Regions from separate parts of the Homo sapiens genome. Here regions 1 and 3 are each linked to region 2. Evidence: fine-mapped QTL for protein levels in blood plasma. A gene starts in region 2. Each other region holds a variant in brackets. All regions are shown on one strand. Distances are between the middles of the regions.

The links. PIP is the posterior inclusion probability: the model's chance that the variant is causal. Protein levels are from antibody-based Olink assays in UK Biobank. Linkage for the fine-mapping came from a reference panel and not from the study's own genotypes, which makes the PIPs less certain.
Region 1: its variant is fine-mapped to the plasma level of the NUDT16 protein (UK Biobank, PIP above 0.99).
Region 3: its variant is fine-mapped to the plasma level of the NUDT16 protein (UK Biobank, PIP above 0.99).

The regions. Positions count from the first base shown.
Region 1 is chr3:130,797,084-130,805,269 of GRCh38, reverse strand. All of the region lies in intron 2 of LOC107986023 (a long non-coding RNA gene), which reads left to right. Among named protein-coding and RNA genes, the nearest start is that of PIK3R4, 54 kb to the right of the region's middle. The variant T/C (reference allele first, on the strand shown) is at 4,493.
Region 2 is chr3:131,375,341-131,383,499 of GRCh38, reverse strand. NUDT16 (nudix hydrolase 16) reads right to left here and starts at 1,726. Exons shown (of 3, transcript NM_152395.3): 1 at 1,558-1,726; 2 at 1,185-1,454; 3 at 1-338. The coding sequence starts at 1,695. The coding sequence ends at 159. It overlaps NUDT16-DT (NUDT16 divergent transcript), which reads left to right and starts at 2,025. Exons shown (of 4, transcript NR_038976.1): 1 at 2,025-2,167; 2 at 6,793-6,888. RefSeq lists enhancers at 718-1,286, 1,287-1,856, 2,148-2,417 and a silencer at 1,738-2,037.
Region 3 is chr3:130,846,305-130,854,490 of GRCh38, reverse strand. It overlaps LOC107986023 (a long non-coding RNA gene), which reads left to right. Exons shown (of 3, transcript XR_001740492.2): 2 at 5,492-5,643. LOC105374108 (a long non-coding RNA gene) reads right to left here. Exons shown (of 3, transcript XR_924486.3): 3 at 7,821-7,906. It also overlaps a transcript of ATP2C1 not described here. Among named protein-coding and RNA genes, the nearest start is that of ATP2C1, 44 kb to the left of the region's middle. RefSeq lists an enhancer at 4,230-4,309. The variant T/C (reference allele first, on the strand shown) is at 4,525.

The DNA of each region.
Region 1 (8,186 bases), 580 kb after region 2:
TCTCTTCAAAGCTGTCAGAGAGGGACATTTAAGTCTGCAGAGGTTACTGCTGTCTTTTTGCTTGTCTGTGCCCTGCCCCCAGAGGTGGAGCCTACAGAGTCAGGCAGGCCTCCTTGAGCTGTGGTGGGCTTCACCCAGTTCGAGCTTCCTGGCCGCTTTGTTTACCTAATCAAACAACTAACTCGGCAATGGCAGGCGCCCCTCCCCCAGCCTAGCTGCCACCTTGCAGTTTGATCTCAGACTGCTGTGCTAGCAATGAGCTAGACTCCATGGGCATAGGACCCTCTGAGCCATGTGCGGGATATAATCTCCTGGTGTGCTGTTTTTTAAGCCTGTTGGAAAAGCACAGTATTAGGGTGGGAGTGACCCGATTTTCCAGGTGCCATCTGTCACTGCTTTCTTTGACTAGGAAAGGGAATTCCCTGACCCCTTGTGCTTCCCGAGTGTGGCGATGCCTTGCCCTGCTTCGGCTCATGCACGGTGCGCTGCACCCACTGTCCTGCACCTACTGTCTGGCACTCCCCAGTGAGATGAACCCGGTACCTCAGTTGGAAATGCAGAAATCACCCGTCTTCTGCATTGCTCATGCTGGGAGCTGTAGACCAGAGCTGTTCCTATTCGGCCATCTTGGCTCCTCTCCTGCCATGTATCTCTTAAGAGTACCTCCAATAAGTATTTTGCACACAACTCCCTGTTTCCAGAGAACTGATCCAAGACATATTTGAAATTACATGTGCATAAGGATAGTTTATAATAGCCGAGGATTGGAAACAACATAAATGCCCACAGAAGCAGACAGGTTAGATGGACTATGTGGCCTGTAAAGAGAATTATATATATCTCTGAAAATAATACTTATGGTAAAAGATATTGAGTAAAAAGTGCTTACTTTTTACCAGGCACTGTTCAAAGATCTTTATGTGTAGGTGCTCTTATTGTGCCCCGGTAAAGATGAGTAGAGAAAAGAATAAGGAAGAGCCTCCCAGGTAAATGAAATGGCATATTTGAAGGTGCAGAGGCAAGAGCAGTCTTGGAATATTTTTAAAACTGAAAAAATAATTATAGTATTATAGAAGCATAGAATGTGAGTGAAAAAAAGACCAGAGATGGGGCTGAAGAGTTAAGATGGAACTAGAAGGATGAGGTCACATGACTGCATTTCAGGGACCAATTAGGGGGTTGTAATTCTGATCCTAGTAAGAGACAACAATGGCTTGAACTAGGATAGTGATGAAAGGGAACAAATTCATGGAAATCCATAAGATAAAGTTAATCCAGTTTGGTAACTTAGGTGTGGGAAAAGGTGAGGCAGGTTTGGTTTTAAGTGTGTGCTAGTGATGGGGGTGCTGTTTGGTGTTAGGTTTAGACATACTAAGTTGAGGATCCCTCATAGACATCCACGTGGAGATGTCAGGAAGACAGGTGAGTATGTAAGTTTTTAATTCAGTCCAAAATGGAGATTGAGTTGGCAGTTTATACATGTTATTTAAAGGCAAGAGACTAGATGAGCTCACTCAGGATATGAGTGTTGGTAGAGAAGAGAGGATTGTTTGGTCAGTTATATACACAGTTATATATAAACTAATACACATATGAATAAAAGAAAATCTGTGAAACCTACCTTTAAGGGGAAGATGAAACAGAAGGAGCACAGCAAAGGTGACTGACTAGGAGTGTGGAGAAAATGGATAGACAATCAGGTGAGAGAATGTGCCCTAGAAATCCAGAGGTGAGAATGTTTAAGAGACCACTTGCTGAAGATATTTTCAAGGCAACTGAAAGCTGGCCCCTTGAGATTACCATTTATGAAGTCACTTGTGACCTCAACAAAAGCAGTTTTGGGTGGTGAAGACACACTCTTGTGTGATAGATTGAATAGTGGAAGTGGAGAGAAAAGGCATAGAATGAGGAAGAAAGAGAGGGAGGTAAGGAGAGTGGGAGGAAACAAAGGAAGGGAGGGAGGAAGGAATGAATGAAGGCAAATGAATGGGGTATGTGTGGAAAGGTGTCATTAGGAAGCAGCACATAGTATTCAATAACAAATTCCCCATCTAAAATAATGACTATGAAGATCATAGCTGTATGGTTTTGAGCAAGTTACTTAACCTCTACTTTCTTCAGTAAATGTGAGCATTAAATAGTTTAATATATTATGAAATGCTTATAATAGTGTCTGGTGCATACTAGGCACTGGAAAATGGAAATTCTTAAAATAAAATAGAAGCTATCATCATTATTTTTAGCATCATGGAACTATCATGAAGCACCACACTCTCAAAAGACAAGAAAGTGAGCCTCAATTTGAGATAGATTTAAAAAATCTCATTAGTACCGAAAACACATAGATAAATTAAATAAAGATTAGAGAAGAGCTGCAAGGGTAAGAATTTGTGTCCTTATTACTTGTTGTTATTTGTCATCCTAATTACCATCAATATTGTTTAACAGGCAGCCTGATCTCTGAGGGAAGCAGGGCGACTGAATTTCTGACTACAAGTGAAATAAATGTTCACTCCTGGGAGGTGTTATTTCTTTCGGCTCCAAGGAACCAGCTGGTGATATAAAAACAGTTAATTGGATTTTTCCACTTCCCTCAGAAAAAGCTTCTAAAAGAATTTATTCTCTTTTTATATGGGAATATTTTATTCACAAAAATCTTCTTTTAGTATCCATCTATTCAAGACTTTAAGAGGAGTTTGGTACTCCATCTATTGGATCCCCCCAGGCCATTTTGACCCGCGTGAATCCCAGTGATTATTGAATGATTTTTCTTGTTGGAAGGGAGGCAAATGCTTTTAAGAAGGTCAATACAAAATTTTTTCCAAAAAGGAAATAAATGTTAAAATAATTAATGGTTCTGTGAACTATAGCCCTTATTCAGAAAAAAAAAATCAGTTATAATACCTCTATTTACATTTGCGATGTCCAACACAATAGCCACATACGGCTGTTGAACACTTGAAATATGGCTAGTGGAGCTGAGACACTACATTTTAAATTTTATTTAATTTTAATTCACTTAAATTAAAAACTGATACTTGATTGAGTTATTTGAAAATTTTAAGTAAGTTTTGAACAACTTGGGCATGTGAATCTACTTTTCATTTCTTTTTTTTCCTAGCAGGCATTTATTTATTTAAAATTGTATATATTTCATGTACAAAGTGATCTTTTGATATATACATACATAGTGAAATTGCTACTGCAATCAAACAAATTAACTTATCTATCACTTCAAATAATTATCTTTAAAATTTGCTAGAATCTATTCTTCTAGCAAATTTTCAGTATACTATACAGTATTATTAACTATAGCCCCCATGCTATACATCAGATCTCTAGATTTATTTATCCTATGTAACCACAAGTTTGTACCCCGTAACCTACATCTGCCCATTTTCTCCCCGTCTCTGCCCTTGGTAAACACCATTCTACTCTCCGTTTCTATATATTTGACTTTTTTAAGACTTCACATGTAAGTGACATTATGCAGTATTTTTCTTTCTGTGTCTGGCTTATTTTACTTAACATAATATCTTCCAGGCTCATCCATGTTGTTGCAAATGGCAGGATCTCCTCCATTAGCAAAGGCTAATAATATTTCATTTTATATAAATGCCACAATTTGTTTTGCTTATTAGTCTCACTTTATTGTTTTTTAGCAAAAATGCTTAAAATAACAATATTTAAAATTAATAAGTCAAAGCATATTTTATTTATGTAGCGTCCATTTTAAATTATAATTTAATAAGTATGACATGAAATCTAAGATAGCCACTATAAGGTAGAATTATTCTCAACTGAACATATAGTTAATACAATTAACTAAATAGCTATCATTTTAACTTAATATTGCTGGACTTTTTAAAAAATAATGTCCATTTTTTTAATATGATTTACATTCTTTTTTTTTTTTTCTTTGAAACGGAGTCTCTCCGCGATGCCCAGGTTGGAGTGTAATGGTACAATCTTGACTTACTGCAACCTCTGCTTCCCAGGTTCAAGCGATTCTCCTGCTTCAGCCTCCCGAGTAGCTGGGACTACAGGCTCGCACCACCACGCCCGGTTAATTTTTATATTTTTAGTAGAGACGGGGGTTTCACCATATTGGCCAGGTTGTTCTCAAACTCCTTACATCAAGTGATCTGCCCACCTCAGCCTCCGAAAGTGCTGGGATTACAGGCATGAGCCACGACGCCTGGCCAATTTACATTCTTTACATATTTGCCTCCTGTTCTTTTGTATTTGCTTTTGGAGATTTAATACCACCAGGTGACTCATTTGGATTTTGTTCTTTGTCTTAGAAAATTAAAAGCAACCATGTGGTTAACTTCACTATTGCATGATTGACTGAAGGTGATTTAAATTTAGTTCTTGGGATACACATAGTTTGCTAAGAAACAGAATTGGCAATCACATGAACCTTTTGCTTTGTTTTCATTGAATCATTTATCTATTTTCTTGCAGTAAATATTTAATTAATCTTTGAATA[T/C]TAAATACATCAAGAACCACTATACATTTCTTTGTTAATATTTGAACTAATCGTGTAACATTGATTTCAATGGTAATTATATTTTCTTTCAGAGACTGTATCTGATATATTTTTCATGAAAGAATAACCTTTGTGGGGTGAGAGCAAAACTTTAAAAGATACTAAAGTACGTTAATAGGTTTATTTGTGCCTTGGTTTCATTTTCGGGTCTCTTAATATTTATGAATATTGCAAATGTTGTGGGAATACAGTATGCATAATATGGGATCATAATGTGTTCAAATAGTTGAGTAGCCCTACAATAAAATCAAGAACAAAACAGAAAGAAGTTTAGAAATTATAACTGATAATTTTCAGAACTACAAAGGTAAAAGTCTTAACATTCTCTCATCAAATGGCTTTAAGTAAATTTCCTAACTTCACTTAGTCTGTCTCTTTACATGAAAATATGAATAACAGTACTTACAGGTTATTGTGATAATACAGTGAATATTGTATGTAAAATTGCCTGGCCTGGTTCCTATCACAGGTGTATTTAATAACAATTTTTTTCTTTTATTTTCTTTTTTTAAACAAACTGTAGAAATATTCCTTTTAATGGCTTCTCTACAGTTTGTAGCCATAAGGCAGGAACTATTTCTACTACTTTGACTATCTTTTATTTTCTTTTTCTTTATTAAAAATATTTTTTATTTCAATAGTTTTTGAGGTACAAGTGATTTTTGATTACATGGATGAATTGCATACTGGTGAAGTCTGAGATTTTAGTGCACCCATCATCCAAGTAATATACATTACACCCAATGTGAAGTGTTTGTTTTGTTTTTGTTTTTGTTTTTGAAACGGAGTCTCGCTCTGTCAACCAGGCTGGAGTGCAGTGCCGCGATCTCAGCTCACTGCAAGCTCCACCTCCCGGGTTCAAGCAATTCTCCTGCCTCAGCCTCCCGAGTAGCTGGGACTACAGGCGTCCACCACCAAGCCCGGCTAATTTTTTGTATTTTTAGTAGAGATGGGGTTTCACTTTGTTAGCCAGGATGGTCTCGATCTCCTGACCTCGTGATCTGCCCGCCATGGCCTGCAAAAGTGCTGGGATTACAGGCGTGAGCCACAACCAATATGAAGTTTTTATAGCTCACCCCACCTCCCACCATCCTCCTTCTGAGTCTCTGAAGTCCATTACACTACTCTGTATGCCTTTGAATACCCATAGCTTAGCTCCCACTTATAAATGAGAACATATGGTATTTAGTTTTCCATTCCTGAGTTACTTCACTTACAATAGTGGCCTCCAGTTCTATCCAAGTTGCTGCAAAAGACATTATTTTATTCTTTTTTATGGCTGAGTAGTATCCCATGGTGTATATATAGCACATTTTCTTTATCCACTCATTGGTCAATGGGCATTTAAGTTGATTTCATATCTTTACAATTATGAATTGTGCTGCAATAAACATACATATGCGGGTGTCTTTTTGATATAATGAGTTCGTTTCCTTTGGATAGATAACCAGTAGTGGGATTGCTGGATAGAATGGTAGATTTACTTTTAGTTCTTTAAAAAATGTTCATATTGTTTTCCATAGACGTTGTGCTAATTTACATTCCCACCAACAGTGTATAAGCATTCCACTTTAACCACATCCACACTAAGATCTACTGTCTTTTGAGTTTTATTTCATGACCATTATTGCAGGGGTAAGGTGGTATCTCATTGTGGTTTCAATTTTCATTTCCCTGATGATTAGCAATGTTGAGCATGTTTTCATATGTTTGTTGATCATTTGTATAACTTCTTTTGAGAAATGTCTGTTCATGTAATTTGCCCACTTTTGATGGAATTTTTTTACTTGCTGATTTGTTTGAGTTCCTTGTATATTCTGGATATTAGTCCTTTGTGAGATGCATAGTTTGCAAATACTTTCTTCCATTCTGTGGATTATTCATTTACTCTGATGATTATTTCTTTTGCAGTACAGAAGCATTTTAGTTTAACTAGGTCCCATTTATTTATTTTTGTTTTTGTTGCATTTGCTTTCAGGGTCTTAGTCATGAATTTTTTTGCCTAGATCAATGTCCAGAAAAGTTTTTCCTAGGATGTCTTCTAGAATTTTTATGGTTTCAGAGCTTAGATTTAAATCTTTGAGCCATCTTGAGTTGATTTTTGTATAAGGTGGAGAGATAGAGATCCTGTTTCATTCTTCTATATGTGGCTAGCCAGTTTTTGCAGCACCACTTATTAAATAGGGTTTCCCTTCCCCAATTTATATTTTTTTAATGCTTTGTCAAAGATCAGTTGGTTGTAGGTATTTGGCTTTATTTCTGGGTTCTCTATTCTGTTCTATTGGTCTATGTGTCTAGTTTTATACTGGTATCATGCTGTTTTCGTAACTATACTCTTGTAGAATAATTTAAAGTCTGGTAATGTGATGCCTCCATATTTATTCGTTTTGCTTAGGATTGATTTGGCTATTCAGGCTCTTTTTTGGTTCCATATAAATTTTAGGATTTTTTTTCTAATTCTGTGAAAAATGATGTTGGTATTTTGAGAAGAATTGAATCTGCAGACTGCTTTGGGCAGCATTGTCATTTTCATGATATTGATTCTTCCAATCTATGAGCATGAGATGTGTTTCCATTTGTTTGTGTCATGTATGATTTCCTTCAGCAGTATTTTGTAGTTATTTTTGCAGAGATCTTTCACCTCCTTGGTTACATATGTTCCTAGGTATTTTAATTATTTTTTGGCAGCTGTTGTAAAAGGAATTGAGATTGAGTTTTTGATTTGGCTCTCAGCTTGGTTGTTGTTGGTGTATAACAGTGCTACTGATTTGTGTACACTGAGTTTTTAATCTAAGACTTTACTGAAATTATTAATCAAATCTAGGAGTCTTTTGGAGGGAGTTCTTCAGGTTGAAATGAAACAATGCTAAACAGCAGTGTGAAAGCATTAAAAAGTATAAAACTCATTGGCAAAGAAGACAAAAAAGAGAATGCTTTATTACCATAACAGTAGTGGGTAAATCCATTATAATCCTACTATGGAAATTAAAAGACAAAAATATTAAAAACAACTATAACTAAAAAAGTTAATGGATATATACTATAAGAAGTTGCAAATTATGACTTCAATAGCATATAACACAGGGGGAGGAGAGGTAAAGGCAGAGTGTTCTTTCATGCAAGGGAAGTTAATTGTTATTAGCTTAAAATAGACTATCAAAGTATAAGATATTTTATATCAGGCCCTTGGTAACCACAAATAAAATAGTTATAGAAGTTCACAAAAGAAAAAGAGAAAGGAACCCAAACCTAGCAATATAAAAAAATGGCAAGAGAAAGAGGAACAAAAAAACCATGAGCCGGGTGCAGTGGCTCACGCCTGTAATCCCAGCACTTTGGTAGGCCGAGGCAGGCAGATCGCCTGAGGTCAGGAGTTCAAGACCAGCCCGGCCAACATGGTGAAACCCTGTCTCTACAAAAATACAAAAAAAATTAGCCAGGCATGATGGCTGGTGCCTGTAATACCAGCTACTCAGGGGGCTGAGGTGGGAGAATCGCTTGAAACGGGGAGGCGGAGTTTGCAGTGAACCAAGATCGCGCCATTGCACTCCAGCCTGGGCAACAGAACAAGACTCTGTCTCAAAAACAAACAAAGAAACAAACAACAACAACAACAACAACAACAAACAGAAAA
Region 2 (8,159 bases):
TCCTCTGCTCAAAACATATGGTACACACTTCTCCTTCTTTTCATCTGGTATCATGTATCATCTCTCAGATCCAATAAGAAAACATTCCCACGTCCTTCCCTCCCTCCCTAGTACCAAGGTCCTCATCTCAGTTTTCATGGGTCCATGGAGGGCTGCCTCTAGTGATGAGCTGGAATCTTAAGGCCTGAAATAGAGCCAGACTGCAGCAGTCCCAAGTCCTGGAGAGCTTCAAGTAACTGCTCCCGCGCAGAGCCAATAAAGGAATTCTCCAGGAAGGTAGGCAGGCCTCCTACACCATCCCGCAGGGTATACAGGGGCACTCGCACCAGGCCCAGCACCTGTAAAAGGAAGGAGACAGGAGACACTAGGGCCCCAGGTGGCTCATTCCCTTAACTCCATCCTTTCTCCAGCAGATCAGGCCTCACCCCTTAATACTCCAGCAGAACCAGGCCCAAGGCTCACACCTCACTAAAGCCTAGTGGCCCAACCTTCTGCAGGAAAATGACCCAAAACATATTATCTAGCTCTATCAATTAATCTTTCCCACATCTGCTTCTAAACCTCTAGTGGCTACTGCCTCAAAGATGTATTCATACCCTTTCACCAGTGGTTGTCAAAATGTGGTCCTCAGATTATTTGCATCAGCATTATTTGGGAACTTTTGAAAACTACAAATTCTCAGGTTTCCTCTCCCCCCGCCCCACCACCAATGCAGGAATGCTGAGAGAAATCGCTATTTTAATAAGACGCCCCGATGATTCTGCTACCTGCCAAATTTTGAGAACCACCTTCATACATAATCTATCTACTAGCCCTGCCTGAAATATCAGGGCCACATCTCCTACACAAGAAAAGCAAACCCCAAGAATAAAACCTAGGTTGCCACACCTAGATAATGTGATAATCTATCACACTGTCAATAGGGAACAGCAGAGAGACATGGATGAGTGTGTTCTAGAAAGGATCTCTCCTGGTAAAGGGTGGGAAAGACCTTTACAGAAAGCCCAGGTTGGCAGTACTAATTCAGAGTATAGATGATCACGATCCCAACTCCACCAAGAAAGCTGGGGAGAGGGCAAGGTCAGAGGGGCAAAGACTTTTCTCCAGGGATGCTTTCTTGGGGGAGAGAAAGCTTTGGGAGAAGAGGAAATTGGGAAAGGGACAGAGTCCCAGGCTGGTCCCACCTCCAGCCCGTGGTCCTTGGCGCGTGTTGCGCCGGCCTCCACAGCCAACAGCTCCTCGAGCGTCAGACGCTTGGCATAGAAGTGGGCCACAACGCGTGGCCCTGACCCGACGTGGGAGCTGCGGTAGTCAGTGCGCTCCACGCGGAAAGCGGCAGCCGCTTCGCCCAGCTCCTCGCGCAGCTCGCGGTTCAGCCCGTCCTCTAGGCTTCTGTCCTGCGTGTCCACGAATCCGCCGGGGAAGCCCAGGCGTCCATCGAAGCGCATCTGCATCTGCGGGAGGGGGAAGCGGGGATTGGCAGGGGCGCCCCAGAGGAGACCACCAGAGAGGGTGCGGGGCTCAGGCAGAAAGTGGCCGGGCGCGCCCCCTTCTCACCAGTATGGCGTAGCGCAGCGGGATGCGGCCGAAGAGCATCCCAGGGTCCGGCGCGTAGAGGAGAGCGTGGCACGCATGACGCCAGCCCGACCCCAGCGCCAGGGCCTCGCCTAGCTCCAGCCTGCGGGCTCCGGCCATGGCCGGACACTGCTCCTCTGCTGTCCCGAAGGCCCAATGGGCAGAGGGGCGGGTCTCACCTCGGACCAATCCGAGCCTGGGCGGTGCTGCAAGGCCCAATCCCTGCAGGGATAAGGGGAGGAACCTAGGCGCCTGGGGGCGGGGCGCCGCGACCGGTGCGGGAGGCAGCTAATCAGGGCGGGGCTTGCAGACCGGGTTGAAGTCCAGGGCCCAGGAACCCTAGGGTAACCGAAAGCAGCCTCTGGGTTGGGCCTGCGGTGGGGCGGGGCTAGAGGTGTGGCCGCGCCCTAAACCTGGCGCAAGGCCGGTACCTAAAGGCTCCTGGGAGCCAAAAGAGCAAGTCAGGGAACTAGCTTTGGTTGGGTTCGGTGGTACACAAAGCACAAGGCCTGGGTTGGGGTTAGGAGGAAATGAGACTTGCGGCGGGTCGGGGCTGAAGATGTGGCAGCGCCCTGAACCTGGAGAAAGGCTGGTACGTAAACGCCTGCGTCGCAATCTGGAGTCAGCTGGAGTGTCCCGGCAGGTGAGGAAGAGCTGGGGCGCTCAGTTGAGTGCTGGGAGCCAAAGAAGTAATAACTACCTTTGGTTGGGTGTGGTGGTACACAAAGCACAAGGCCTGGGTGGGGGTTAGGAGGAAATGAGGCAGGGTTGGCCTCAGACACCAAGGCCTATCCTAGGGAAATGGAGATGGACAGGCGCCATGGTCTGACAACTATCTTGAGTGGTGAAATTGAGGGGACTTGGTGACTGAGTGAATGGGGAAGAGGGAGCGCTGGGCTAGTGGTGGTTCCGAGTTTCCTGGATGTGGTGTCATTTTCTGAGAGGGGGAGAGTAGGAGAAGGGTGAGCAGTGATAAGTGTAGTTCTAAGGAATTGGGGTGGCCATAGGCAGTGGGCAGCTGATCGTGGGGGTCTGACGCACAGGGAGTGGCACATAGAGAAGTCACAGGGCAGTGAGATTTTCAGGGGAAGGGTGGGGGTGGAAGGAGCTGTGAGTGAAATCCTGTGGCACAGGACTGGGAGTGAGGAGGGGTGAGAGATAGAAGAAGCCTCCTAGGCTTTCTAGTCTTTCCCTCAAACCCCCTCAGACCTCTGAGCTATGAAGGAGGGTGGGTTACCCTACCACAAGGGCAGAGGCCTACTCAGGGCCTGATGCTGAGATGCAGGATCCCTCACTCCAGGCCAGGCCTTCCCCACCCTGCAGAGCGCCCCTACACCAGGTGTCGATATTGATTATGCAATAGAAAGCAGGAGGCAGCTCCTTGAGGGGGGCTGGGCATAAACTCACAGCCTGTAAGTGACGGCATATGGTGGGAAAGAGTCCGGACCCACCCAGAAACAGGTTTGTGACCTTAACAAGTCACTTAACTCTCTCAGATCCCAGCAGCTCATCTGTTAAGTGGAGATGATACCAACCTATTAGGGATGTTGAGATATGTTAGGCACTTAGAACAGTGCCAGGCAGAAAGTAAATGTAGCCATTCTTGGAGTTGAGGGTTGGGGCACAGTGCTATGTCTTACGTTGAGGAGCCAGGGCTGGGCACATACCTATAATCCCAGCACTGTGAGAGGCGAGGTGAGAGGATCATTCAAGGTCATGAATTTGAGACCAGTCTGGGCAACATAGCGAGACCCCGTCTCTACAAAAAATAATAATAATAAATAAAGACCCAAGTGTTGGAACTGAGCTGCACTCATCACGCTCCAGTGTTTGAAGGAGGGATGAGCTGTATGACATCATCTTTCCTAGCTTAGTCTTCTGCGTTGTGGGGCAGGGATATTATCTAATAACATGAAGCAACTGCATTAAAGTGATGAGTCTGTAGGTGTGATACAATTGTCACTGGCCTGCTAGAGTTCCAGGGGGTTTGGAAATAGCCCTGCTTTAACATTAGAGTCACCTCGCAAAAAGCTTCTAAAAATTTTTAAAAGCTGCCACTTTTTCCTACCACAGACCAGTTGAATCAGAATGTATGGGGTCCTACAGGGACATATGCGGTTTTTAAAATATGTTTTAGGTAACTAATAACCAGGGTGGAGAACCGGGGCCTTCCCCCTTCCACTAGCATTCCAAAGGCGACTTGGTTTTTCTCCTAGATAGGCTACCTTTAATGATTTAGGATCAAACATGCCCTTTCCAGATCTTCAAGCTGTTCTTTCTTTCCTGGTTACTTGAGACTTTAAAGATGGACTTTTCAAGATGACTTCAAAGATTTCAAAGGCAACATGAAAAACTGTAAAACCAAGGCAACAGCTGTACGAGTTTTCATGATTTTGGAGACCAGAGCTTTTTCTAGATGAATATGATGAATATGGAAGTCCTTTAGAGCCCCCAACCTTGCCATCCCTTTCAAATCCTTCTCTGCCTCTGCCCCACCCCCACCAACCATCCCCCATTCCACTATCCTAAGGCAGAATGCCCAGGACTCAAGGCTGCAGGTAGAGGGCTGAGCCATGTACCTAAAGAGCTGTTCCAAGTTCATAATGGTACCTGGAACCAAAAATAACTCTGTAGTCAGCATGGGAAGATTCTAGAAAACCAATCTATTATTTTAAAAATAATAATGAAAAGAACTAAGCATTTATCCTGCCTTTTTTATATGAGCTCTTCCTCAGGGCCACCAAATAGTTAATGAGAGGAAATTTATTTCACAAAGTATTCCAGGTAATCAAAGAGGAAGGACAGAGCCAATCAAAATTTTAACATTTGTTAAACTTTAAAGAATTAATGGAATCTAGGGAATGATCATCATTGGTTGCTAACATCATGAATAGACAGTTGTTATACACATTGTGATAAAAGAGCACACTACCTCCTTTGGATTATCTCTGCCAAAATATTGAACTGTCATCTTGATCTAACAATTTATAAGAAATTCAAAGGAATACCTATTTAAAATATTAGGAAGAGACTAGAATGATCTATGTAGTAATAGATTAGAGTTTGAAACATCAGTATGAATTCATTTTTAGCTTGATGTAGATATGGCTATATATATACACATACATACATGCACACATATATGTATACATACAAAGGTTAGTGTGCACAGATATTTCCTTCCTCTGTCAGCTGAGTGGGCTTAGAAGCAATGATATTCCAGTAGCAACAAACACACCAACTGCCACATTTTGGTTTCTAATACCATTTTCCATAAAAGGAATCAAAGCCCTTTGGAGAAATGGCTGATTCTAACATTGGGCCAGGAAATATGCAACATGGATATACAATAAGCCTAAAGCATCTTGTGATGCCAGAAATTAAGGAAGTTCACCAAATAAAAAAGGACAAAAATCGATACTGATGGAGGTATATCAAAGAAACAGAGACACAGGGACCAGCTGAAAAAGTTCCTAGTGGCCAAAGCTGAAAGAATTTGAGCAACAAAATAAGTAGTATTGGATTATAACTTGAAGTATCAAATAAATATCTACAGGCCCATACTGATAATACAAATAAATAATGAAAATGTGTTAGTAAATAAATGGAGGAGAAGAGAAAAATATCCCGTGCAGAAGAACTGGAAATAATTCATGTAGCTACTCTGCCCTCAAGGAGGTGGAGCATAGCTCCCCACTCCTTGTGGGTTGTGAATAATGACTTCCTTCCAAAGAGTACAGTAAGAAAACAGGAGAAGAAAGGAGTAACTTTGTGGAGAAACCTGACAAACACTACCTTGAACACGTGATCAAGGTCAAAATCATCATTGACAAGTCATGTTGGTAGAATGCACCCTTAATATGAAGTAATGAAAATGGTACTTTTGTCTGTGGTTTTCCCTCAAAAAGATATAATCCCTCTCTAACCATGAGAAAAGCACCAAGCAAATCCCAGTGAAGGGACATTCTACACAATACCCAACCAGTAAGCCTCAAAATTGTTATTGTCTTAGTCCATTAGGGCTGCTGGAACAAAATACCACAGATTGGGTGGCTTAGAAACAACAAATACTTGATTTCTCCCAGTTCTGGGGCCTGAGAAGTACAAGATCCGGGTACTGGTAGATTGGGTGCCTACTGAGGGTCCACTTCTGGGATCATAGAAGATAGTCTTGTGCTGAAACCTCATGTGTGAGAAGGGGTGAGGGAGCTCTCTAGAGTCTCTTTTATAAAGTCACTAATTTCAGTCATGAGAGCTCTGTCCTCATGACCTAATAACTTTTCAAAGGCCCTACTTCCAAATACCAACACAATTGGAGTTAGGATTTCAACATAAGAATTTGAGAAGAAAAATATTCAGTCTATAGGAATCATGAAGTATAATGAAAGTCTGAGAAATTCTCACAGCAAAGATGAGCCTAAGAACACATAACATGTCTAAATGGAATGTGGTATCCTGGAGAAGAAAAAGGACATTAGAGAAAAACTAAGGAAATCTGAATAAAGCATAGATTTTGGTTGACGATACTGTATCAAAATTGATTTATTATTATAAGAAATGTTTTATAATAATGTAGATGTTAATTATAGGGTAAAGTAGGTAGAGTGTATGGGAACTCTGTACTATTTTTATAAATTTTCTGTATATGTAAAACTTCTAAAAAATAGGTTTGTTTTAAATCAGGAGAATACAAACAGTGAAATATAAACTGAACAAAAATTTAAAGGAAAAATGACCTGATTTATTTAATAAATAAATTACAAAGGGAAAAAAGGCATGGTGGCAGAATCTATACATTAAGAGATTGAGAAAACATATCAATTGAAGCAGTTGGTTTATTTGATTCCTAATTTGTCCAAACAAACTTAGTGATCATTGTTTGAGGTGCTAATAGTATGGTGGCTGTTTTGTTAGGGTTCTTTATCTGTTAGAGATACATACTAAAACATTTGTGAATGACATGATAAAAATAATTCAATGAAGGGGCAGAGGCTGAAGTTATAGTAAAATTGGCCATGAATTGATAATTTTTGAAGCTGGGTGATGATGGATCTATTAAGGACTTATGTTATTCTGCTTACTTTTACTTTTATATAGCTTGATGTTTCCATAGTAAAAAGTTAAAAATAAAAAGATCTTTGGCATCTCATGAAGTAAAGGTAAAAGTTGTCATTTACACTTGAATAAAACTTTGCATTTCACAAAATTCTTTCACAGAATCCCTTTGGTCAAGGAGAGGGAGAGAGAGGTAAGGGTCTGGTCTTACTTTTTAAGCAGGAAGAAGACTACAAACCACCATCTACCATCTGCCAGGTAATTTTAAACCAGTCCACTTAATCCCCATCAGATTTTCCAGATGCTTTGAATGCAGAGCTAAGGTTGAGAACCACTGATTTAGACAAATATACTATGGGAGAAGGGGAAGGAGGTTCCACCAGCAGAGAGCAACCAGCTAGAGCCATTTGGGGCTTATCACAAAAGACTTCTTGTCAGGGAAATTCACCTATTGAGAGACATTTTGGTTGTTTCCAATTCTGGGCCATTGAAAAGAATGCTAATAAGCAAAGCCCCTCTTCTGCTATGAAAGTAACAGTGGGCAGATATTCCCTCTCTGGCCCTTGGGTAACTGAAAGGAGGCTTATAACCAAAGCACAGCCAGTGAGATGCTCCTGCTCAGGATGTTGATTTTGGAGAAGTGACACAAGGTATATGATCAGAGTTAAGGGTTCAGTAGGCCAGTAATGAGTGCCAGTGGTGTTGGTTCCAGTAGCACAATGGTAAGTATCCAGTTTAGAAGGCTCGGGTGGCAGCATCCTAAGCCCACTATCCCTAGCGAGATGCTGGCTGTGCCTCACCAACCCTCATCCCTGCCTCATCCTTGTTCTCCAGCTTCCCATTAAAACTGTGAGCTTCCTAATACCTTTCCAATAAATTAAATTTTGTCATAAATATACCATAATCCATTTCTATTGTTTCTTTCTTTTTTTTTCTTTTTTTTTTTGAGGCAGAGTCTTGCTCTGTCACCCAGGCTGGAGTGCAATGGCACAATCTTGGCTCATGGCAGCCTCTACTTCCCAGGTTCAAGCAATTCTCCTGCCTCAGCCTCCTGACTAGCTGGAATTACAGGTGCATGCCACCATGCCCGGCTAATTTTTGTGTTTTTAGTAGAGATGGGGTTTTGCCATGTTGGCCAGGATGGTCTCGAACTCCGGACCTCAAGTGATCCGGCTGCCTTGGCCTCTCAAAGTGCTAAGATGACAGGCGTGAGACACCGCACCCAATGATTTCTATTGTTTCTATCCAAGAACATTGATGAGTATATGAGGACAAAAATACTAATCAAAAAGTCACATACAAATGAATGATTTGAATTGGCAATGAGTGACTTGAAGAAAAGGTACATGGGTGAAATTAATCTGGTCTGGAAGGTCAAAGTATAAAGAATGCTTCCCTTAGGAAATGACACTAAAACTGAGACAGACTCAAAGTTAATGAGGTAAAACGTGGAGGGGTGGAGCGGTGGGAGGGTGATGGGTAGTAACAAGGGGAAAGAAGAGTGGGAAATGCAGCGCCAGTAGCCTGAG
Region 3 (8,186 bases), 530 kb after region 2:
CTTATAAACTAGACACCAACATCTGAGCCAGGTGCTGGATGTTGCCCTCAGACCAAAATAAAATAACCGAAACCAAACACCCTTATGCGTGCGTTCAGCACACCTACTCAAACTCATCTGAGACTCCATTTAGGCTCAGGCTGCCCAACGTTCACCACCACCACTGTTACTACCACACCATTTGAATAATTCTGAGAGAAAGGTTAACAAATTTTCCCAACCTTCAGCATCTTCATCTCATTAATGCTGTTAATCTTCTACATATGTGGGGATTTGGCTTTGTGAAACACTTGCTGCAAGAGAATCTAGGGAAGCAAAGGATGAAATATTTGTTCTCAATTTGATAAATAACCTACCAACCTATTGATGGCTGTATCACAGGAATAACACTACCACCACCAGAAAAAGCTACCAAACAAATCAACCCTCATGTCAAATCTTCTTGTCTGTATGACACCAAGTGCGAGAAGAGCACTAGGAGAAGTTTTAAACAATAAAGCATATGTGAACAAGGTGAGTGTAACAATGATCATAATTTGGACCACAGAAAAGGGGTATGGGGAACTTCTAGGCCTAGTAAAAACAACAAAGGAGGTCTGTGTCACAGTCAATCCAGTGTGTACCCTCTGCCTGTTGTGTGGGTCACCTTTACACCAGTATCTGCCAGGCTCCAGTATGCCTCAGGGAACAAAGAACAAGATAACATCCAGTGTCATGTGTGCATGGGTGCACGAATATCGACATGAAATCACATGATTTACTACATAGAATGTAGTAAGGGCTGTGTCTGAAGCAAACAAAATATCTTGGAAAAGGAAGACTTCATTCTTCCCAGCAGCACTGGAGAAAGCTTTTCACTGAGCCCATTTAATCCAAGTATTGAAGGATGTACAGGAGACCTCCAGGAGGGCAAGTTGTAAGTAAAGGAGAGAATTCTAGGCTAGAGGGGGGAGTTCATTTAAATGTGCAAAAGTAAAGAAGCAGATGGTGTTCTGTTATAATATTCCCCAAGTATGTGGAAGTCAACATGGTTGGTACTTAGCAGCGCTAAGTGAGGTGGGAGAAGATTTTAAGTGGCATGCAGACACTACATTCAATAACACTGAATCATTTTGGATTGAAAAACATTATCTACCTTTTAATTCCTTTCCATCCTCACCCAGGAAACTTTCTCAGTTGGCTCCTAGGATGCTCTAACCTTTCTCTTAAAAGCTAATCTTCCTTATTAACAAATGAGCAGGTTTCAGGCTTGGAGGTTTTACAGGCAATAGTATCTACCTAGAATTTAATACTGTTTTGCTTTTATTAATTATTTTTACTTACGGCTAATGACAATGGTTTTCCATTTACAGTCATGATATGAACTTTTTTTCTAAATAAACTCTAATAATGTGATTTAAGTACAAATACAGAAAAATATTGAGGAATTAATCATACAGATGTGGTAAACAGTAAAAATTATGACAGTGCTATGTGAATATAGGAAATTTTAGAAATCTCTCAAGGAGAAAAGTTAGCAGGGTGATATTTTGCTATTACTAGATTGTTCAGGGATCAAGCGTGGTAAAATGAATAAAATTTAAAGCCATGAGATAGAAATTCACATCTTCCTCTGGTACTTTCTAGCTGCATGGGCAAGGGCTCTTAAGGGCTCTAAGTCTCAATCCCTTCACTTTTATATCAAGGATTAGTTATACAAGAATGTAAGGATTAGAGGCAACAAATATGCAGGTCATAAGATTGTAGACATTATTAACCTCCTTTATAACTTCCCAACAAGCTTTCAAGGTTAGTTATGATGAACTCTGACCTAATTTCTCTAATTCTGTGAGACATTAGGTCTGCAGAGCTGTAGTTGGCTTTAAAAAGAAATCAAATATATTATTTCTCTTAATTATTCAATTCACTTATATAAGAATTTAAGAACTCAGCATAATACTCACTCCCAGCTGTTCCTAGGTTGTCCCAAATGGTTGTACACTGGGGAAGGGACTACCCACCCTGTCCAAGTCAGAGGTTTTATGTTAAATTCTAATGGTCTTCTGAATGCATTTTGTAATACTTCTTCAATAAACTAAAAACAAAGAACCATAGAACTACACAAGCAATATAGCCACATCTCTGAAAACTTACAATACTGAGAAAAAAAAAATCACTCAATTCACATTCCACAGTTGTGTTCCCATCCTTTCAGCCACCTCTCTTCCTTCCATAATAAATGAGGCCTGAAGAAGCCCGTGAACATTAAAAGATTGGCAAACAAAAACTTATACAGCCCTACCACTTGGTTCTCTAGCTTTCTACATCAAAAGCAAGTGCAGGCTGAAACTTGGAAACCAAAAGTTGGTCTTTTAATGGTGACACCTTGCCTAAGTAAGATAAACTGGACCAGCCTAGCTCCCTTAGTGAACAGAGTCTGTTTGAATTTCTGGCCCTTGTAAAATTATTAAAGCAGGGCATACAAGCAGTTTCCTCTCAAACAGTAGCAATGATTTTTATTTTCCAAATTATGCATTGCCTTTTTGGGAAACCTGTCATGAGAGGATTTTCTGTCTGCTAAACCTATCTTGCATTTCCTGGAAGTGTTTTATTAAGTGGGTCATCTCATATCACAAAGGAGAAAAAAATACAGGACACTGGTGATATCTCCTGCATAGTTTTGCAGTTCTAGTTACAAGCACAATGCACAAGCAATTTATGACTGCTGGGTCTTTGGTATGGCTATACATTTGTCCTTCACATTTGTATACCACCGCCACACTTCTTCCTAAATGAATCACTAGATTTAAATGGATCAGATATTGCTACTTCTTCTAACAATTTGGTAAAATTCATAAAAATCATTTTTAGAAATGTCTTTTTTGGAGATCAAAGAAATGGAATGATATAAATCTCACACCATAAAAATGACTGCATGATTTTAAATGAGATGTGATCAGACATTTTAACAGTTTTAAAAATGCTTATATTCCCAAGTGATAGTGTCTCCTGCTGGAAATCATAGCTTTTGATTGGCTAAAAAGACTGAATATGGCAGTGCTCTACCTCCTACCTTTTACACACACAAAAATGACCAACTGCTTCTGAATGATCTTTATAGCTTGTTAATGATCTGTTTAAGGTTATTATAGTTTATAAAATGTTTTTTGTTTTGCAAATTCTGGCTATGTAAACATAACCATAAATACAAGAAGACAAGTGTACTTCTAGGGTCTGATACTTTCTTTGTTGAGATATTAATAGTGTCAAATTTTGTATCTGAGGCATTGGAAAATGATCAAAGAATTCAAAATTTAACTTTGATAGAGTAGCTCTTTAGAAGAAAGAAAGCATGTGGCTTCATTACAGAACTCCGCTTAATCTCAGGATCTGAATGTTCCAAGTTTAAATAAATTCTCACAAGCCTGCTTGCTTTCTGATTGCCAAGTCTGAACAGCCACAAGCAGGATCTGACCTGTACCTATAAACATGTAAACCAGCACAAATGAAATCACTAAGCGACGTAAAAGCAACAAGGAACAAGCACCCGTTCATTTTAAAGATAATATAAACAAAATGATACCTGTTCTTCGGCTCTTTGGTTTCTCAGCGTCGATAAATATCTCCTAATTGCATGGAGAGGATATTTTTTGAAATAAGAGAATCTAGATGGAGGCAACAGACTATCCATAGTGAGGAAAGCAAGAGGGTCCTTGTCTGCACCTCCTTGTCAGCAACCATATGAAATTAGAAACTTAGCAATTCCTCAGATGCCTAAAGATTTGTTTGTAGCTCGACAACTTCCCTCCTACAAACAAAGCAAATGTTCTCCTTGCTGTTTCCTCTTTTGGGTAGAGTTCCTGGTGAAACCAGACAGCCAAGTATGAACACTGTCTAGAAGCGTCCAGAAATGCAATGCCCAAAGGGCAATAGGAATTCAGGGGCTGGTCCACAGAATGCAAATTGCTTAGTGGTAGTGATGCGACTGTCCTATTTCTAGCAACAGTGTTCTGTTGCAAGCTATGTTAATATTAGCTAGCTGGTGACTTTCCATACCCACAGACTCTCGTGAGGCTTAATTTTAATTCTTCTGACACTTTTTCTAGTTCTTAAACAGGGCATGAGATGTGGTTTTCCCAGTTTCCTTCTAGATTTCTTATCATCATGCGCACACACAGACACACAGCTCAGTTGCGGTCTGAGCTGGAAAGTGTTGATTCATTCAGTCTTGAGAAGACTGTTATAGGGGACTTCCAAAAAAATTTAACAAATTACCTCACTCTTCATTGTTATCAAGGAGCTCGTTGTCAGCACTGAAAACGTTTGGCTTGCACTGTGATGCATTATGCAACATGCCCAGTAACCAGATACTTTACATTAATTGAACAATAGCTGCAAACAGATTCTGTTCTGAGTTAAAAGCCTTCTCTCCTTGAATCCTTATCTCAAATCCACAGGCTGAATTCAGAAACATTAACTTTCCCTAGGCTTTTAAAAACTATGAATGTAAGTGAGAGAAAATGTTTTATGTTTACTTTCTAACTC[T/C]TATTAAAAAAAAGATTCATGCTTAAAAAAAAAAGAACAAAAGAAAAATAATGCCAAGAGGTCTGTGGTCTTAGAGGACATGAAATCATAAAATTTGAAAGTTCAATATTTTCTTAATACTTTATAGAGATCACAGGGTTTTTCTAAACTAGGGCCCCAAATAGACATTACTATTTTATTATCCTTTTAAACTTTACAGTAGCTGGTTCCTTTGATGGAAACATTTGGTCACTTCTGTGAGGGGCTGTCATGTAGAAAACAGACTGGACATCAACAAAAATTATGTGACCCAGAGTTTTCTTTAAGGGTGAAAGCAAGCCCTGGTTTTTCCCTCTTCCTAGAGAGCACTGCAAGTTGCGGGGAAGAGGAGGTAGGCAGAGCTGGGGAAATTACATTGCAGCCTTAGTTGTCCCCCTGGACAGCCTCCCTGACACTCCTGGATGGGTCACCTGCCTTCAGGGAACACACTTGATGGCCTAAACCTGGTTGTGCTGCAAGCAGCCCAGGCCATCTGTCAGGTTGGCATTGGGCCCACTAGCAAGGTGATCTTCCAGACTCACCAGGACCAGCCTGGCAATTCCAAGAAGTCATTTACATATTGCTACTGGAGCTGGCTCCTAGGAGGAGGCCCTGCCCTTCTGTCACCTCTCCAGGTGCACCATGCTACATGCATACAGAGGCTCTGCACGTCCTTCTCTGTATGCTGGAGACAGCTGACTCTAATGAGGGCAAGAGAGAAGCAGTGTGCTTGTGAAACACCTGAATGCTAAGGGCACAGTGCTGCATGCTCCCTGCCAGTTCATGACCCAGAAAAACAAGAAGTATAGAAAGCCAGATACCCTGGGCCAACTTGAAGCCCTGGAAAGAGAGGCAGCCCTAGGGATTGTGGGGGCAGGGAAATGTGTCGTTCATACGAACCCTTGAGATCCACTAACTGCCCTTTTGCTTCTCTTTTTAAAAATATCAGAACCTTCAGAGATGCCTCTTTATTGTGGGCAGAAGCCAGCAGCCTGCTAAACACCCACAGCATGACTGGTGATCCAATCTTTTCCCAACAGACGAACACAAAGCAGACTTCATTTCCACAGTTGTTTCAGGATCACTTTTTCTGGGGCTGAGGTGAGTGATGAAAAGAAATGGGGAGGGAGAAATGCAGCATCCCCAAACAAAAACTGTTCTATTAGATTAAGCACAAAAAAGAAAAATGGGTGAAACAAATTCAATTAAAATTCCTTTAGGAATTTAATTGATAACGAATATAAATCGTATCTAATACTAATTGGGCCCTTTGGCCAGGTGATGTGCTAAAGTCTTTACATGTATTATCACATGTAATCCTACAGTAACATATGGGTAAACTAAAGCTCAGAGAAGGTAACAATTTGCTGAGGTCGCACAGCTGCAAAAACAGAGGCGAAGGGGATTCTAACCAGGTAAACCTGACTCCAGTATCTGTATCCAACCTGTATACTGCAGAACCACTTAACCCACTCCCAGAAATGAATTCTCAAGGACCTATTAACTTGAAGAAGGAAAGACATGGTGTTACCTTGTTAAAGAGGAATACAGGCCAGGCATGGTGGCTCACACTGGTAATCCCAGCATTTTGGGAGGCCAAGGCGGGCAGATCACTTGAGGTCAGGAGTTTGAGACCAGCCTGGCCAACATGGTGAAACCTCGTCTCTACTAAAAATACAAAAACTTAGCTGAGTGTGGTGGTGCGTGCCTGTAATCCCAGCTACTTGGGAGACTAAGGCAAGAGAATCACTTGAACCTGGGAGGCGGAGGCTGCAGTGAGCCCAGATCGTGCCACTGCACTCCATCCTGGGCAACAGAGCAAGACTCTGTCTCCAAAAAAAAAAAAGAGAGAGAAATACAAATACAGATGGCTAGGAATTTGCAGACTACGATTGGAGAGCAAGTACGTCTTCTCAAACAATCATACAACCTCCTGTCCTGAATTCTCTATAAATAATGTTCATATCATTACCTACCTCTTAAAGATTCCTTTATGAAATGATTCTGGTGATGCTAAAAAGAAGCTGTATTTGTAGATACAGATATTCTGCTTCCCAATTTTTGAAAACTACTACAATCTCAGTTTCTGTTTGACATAGGTTTCAATGGTCCGTCTATATTTAATAAAATATGAATGTGGGAATTTATGCACCCTGTTTCTCAGGTGGTAGGCATAGTCTCCTTAAGTTTACAGTATGGACATCTCTGCCATCACAGCTTGGAGAAGTGCCCTTTTTTTTTTTTTTTTTTTTTTAAGGCGTGCCATTTTTTATTGCCCCTGTGGCTCAGGTGCCTTGATGAAAGACAGCTGACCAGAGTCCTGGTGGCTACAATCTATATCTGCAAGGACTGAAGGGCCCAGTGTTTCTTCCACAAGTATATGAGGTATATTTTGCCCTCTGCAAAGTAGCACAATAAAGAGTGGAAGCAGGCCGGGCACGGTGGCTCACGCCTGTAATCCCAGCACTTTGGGAGGCCAAGGAAGGCAGATCATGAGGTCAGGAGTTCAAGACCAGCCTGGCCAAGATGGTGAAACCCTGTCTCTACTAAAAATAGTAAAATTAGCTGGGCGTGGTGGTGTGTGCCTGTAATCCCAGCTACTCAGGAGGCTGAGGTAGGAGAATCACTTGAACCTGGGAGGCAGAGGTTGCAGCGAGCCGAGATCACGCCATTGCACTCCAGCCTGGGTGACAGAGCAAGACTCTGTCTCAAAAAGAAAAAGAAAAAAAAAAAGAGTGGAAGCAGTTATCTGTTATTTTGCAGAACTCACTCCCACCCCTCGTCCTCGATAGAAAAATAACTAACAGAAACCATGAATCCAGGAAAGTCATAGGTTAAGGCTGTAATCCCACAATGAAAGGATATTTGTGTGTTCTCTGTGCTTTCTAATAATAATCTGCTTTTTTGCAAATGGCTTAAAGTATGGGGAATCCCAAATTCTTCACTTGAAAAGCAACATAATGAGGCAAAGCCAACACCAGGAAAAATAGTGGTAAGGGAGTGAGCAGAAAGATATTTTACAGTTTATTCTTTTTCAAATGTTAAAGAAGATAGGATGAAAATGTAGGTTTGTGAAGTCATCTAGCACTGTGCATTGCACACAGTAGGTGTTAAGTTAACATATACCAATGCATATTCATTGAAAGAGAATGACAAAGAAGAAAGAATTGGATCCAAGGGTTAAATACAGGTTGAGAAACATGAAACAAGAATTGAGAAACAGTGTCTCCAGGATACCTTTGAATTGATGAGATTTTCAAATTGCATCAGGACAAAAATGAAAAGCCCGCTAATCTCCTCCTTCCAATCAGTGCTAAGAGTTCCCATCAGGAAAATGACTCCATTCTCTGGGAATTAATCCAGCCTGGATACAGAGTGAAGGGCCGGCAGTTAGGATGATGGAGAAGCTGCTAGCTCAGAAAACAGAAATCATTTATTATTATGAATTCTACTGAGAAATCACTCTCATCCCACTAGATCTGTAGATACTGGTCCAGTCTTACACTCCCCTAAGGACAGCATCAAATACAATCAAGAGAGGAATGGGAGGCATTTAATATTGCTCATCAGGGCAAGTTTATGCAGCACCAGATTCCACCTTATTGCATGATTAAAGCACTTCTGCTACTTCACAGTACATTTTC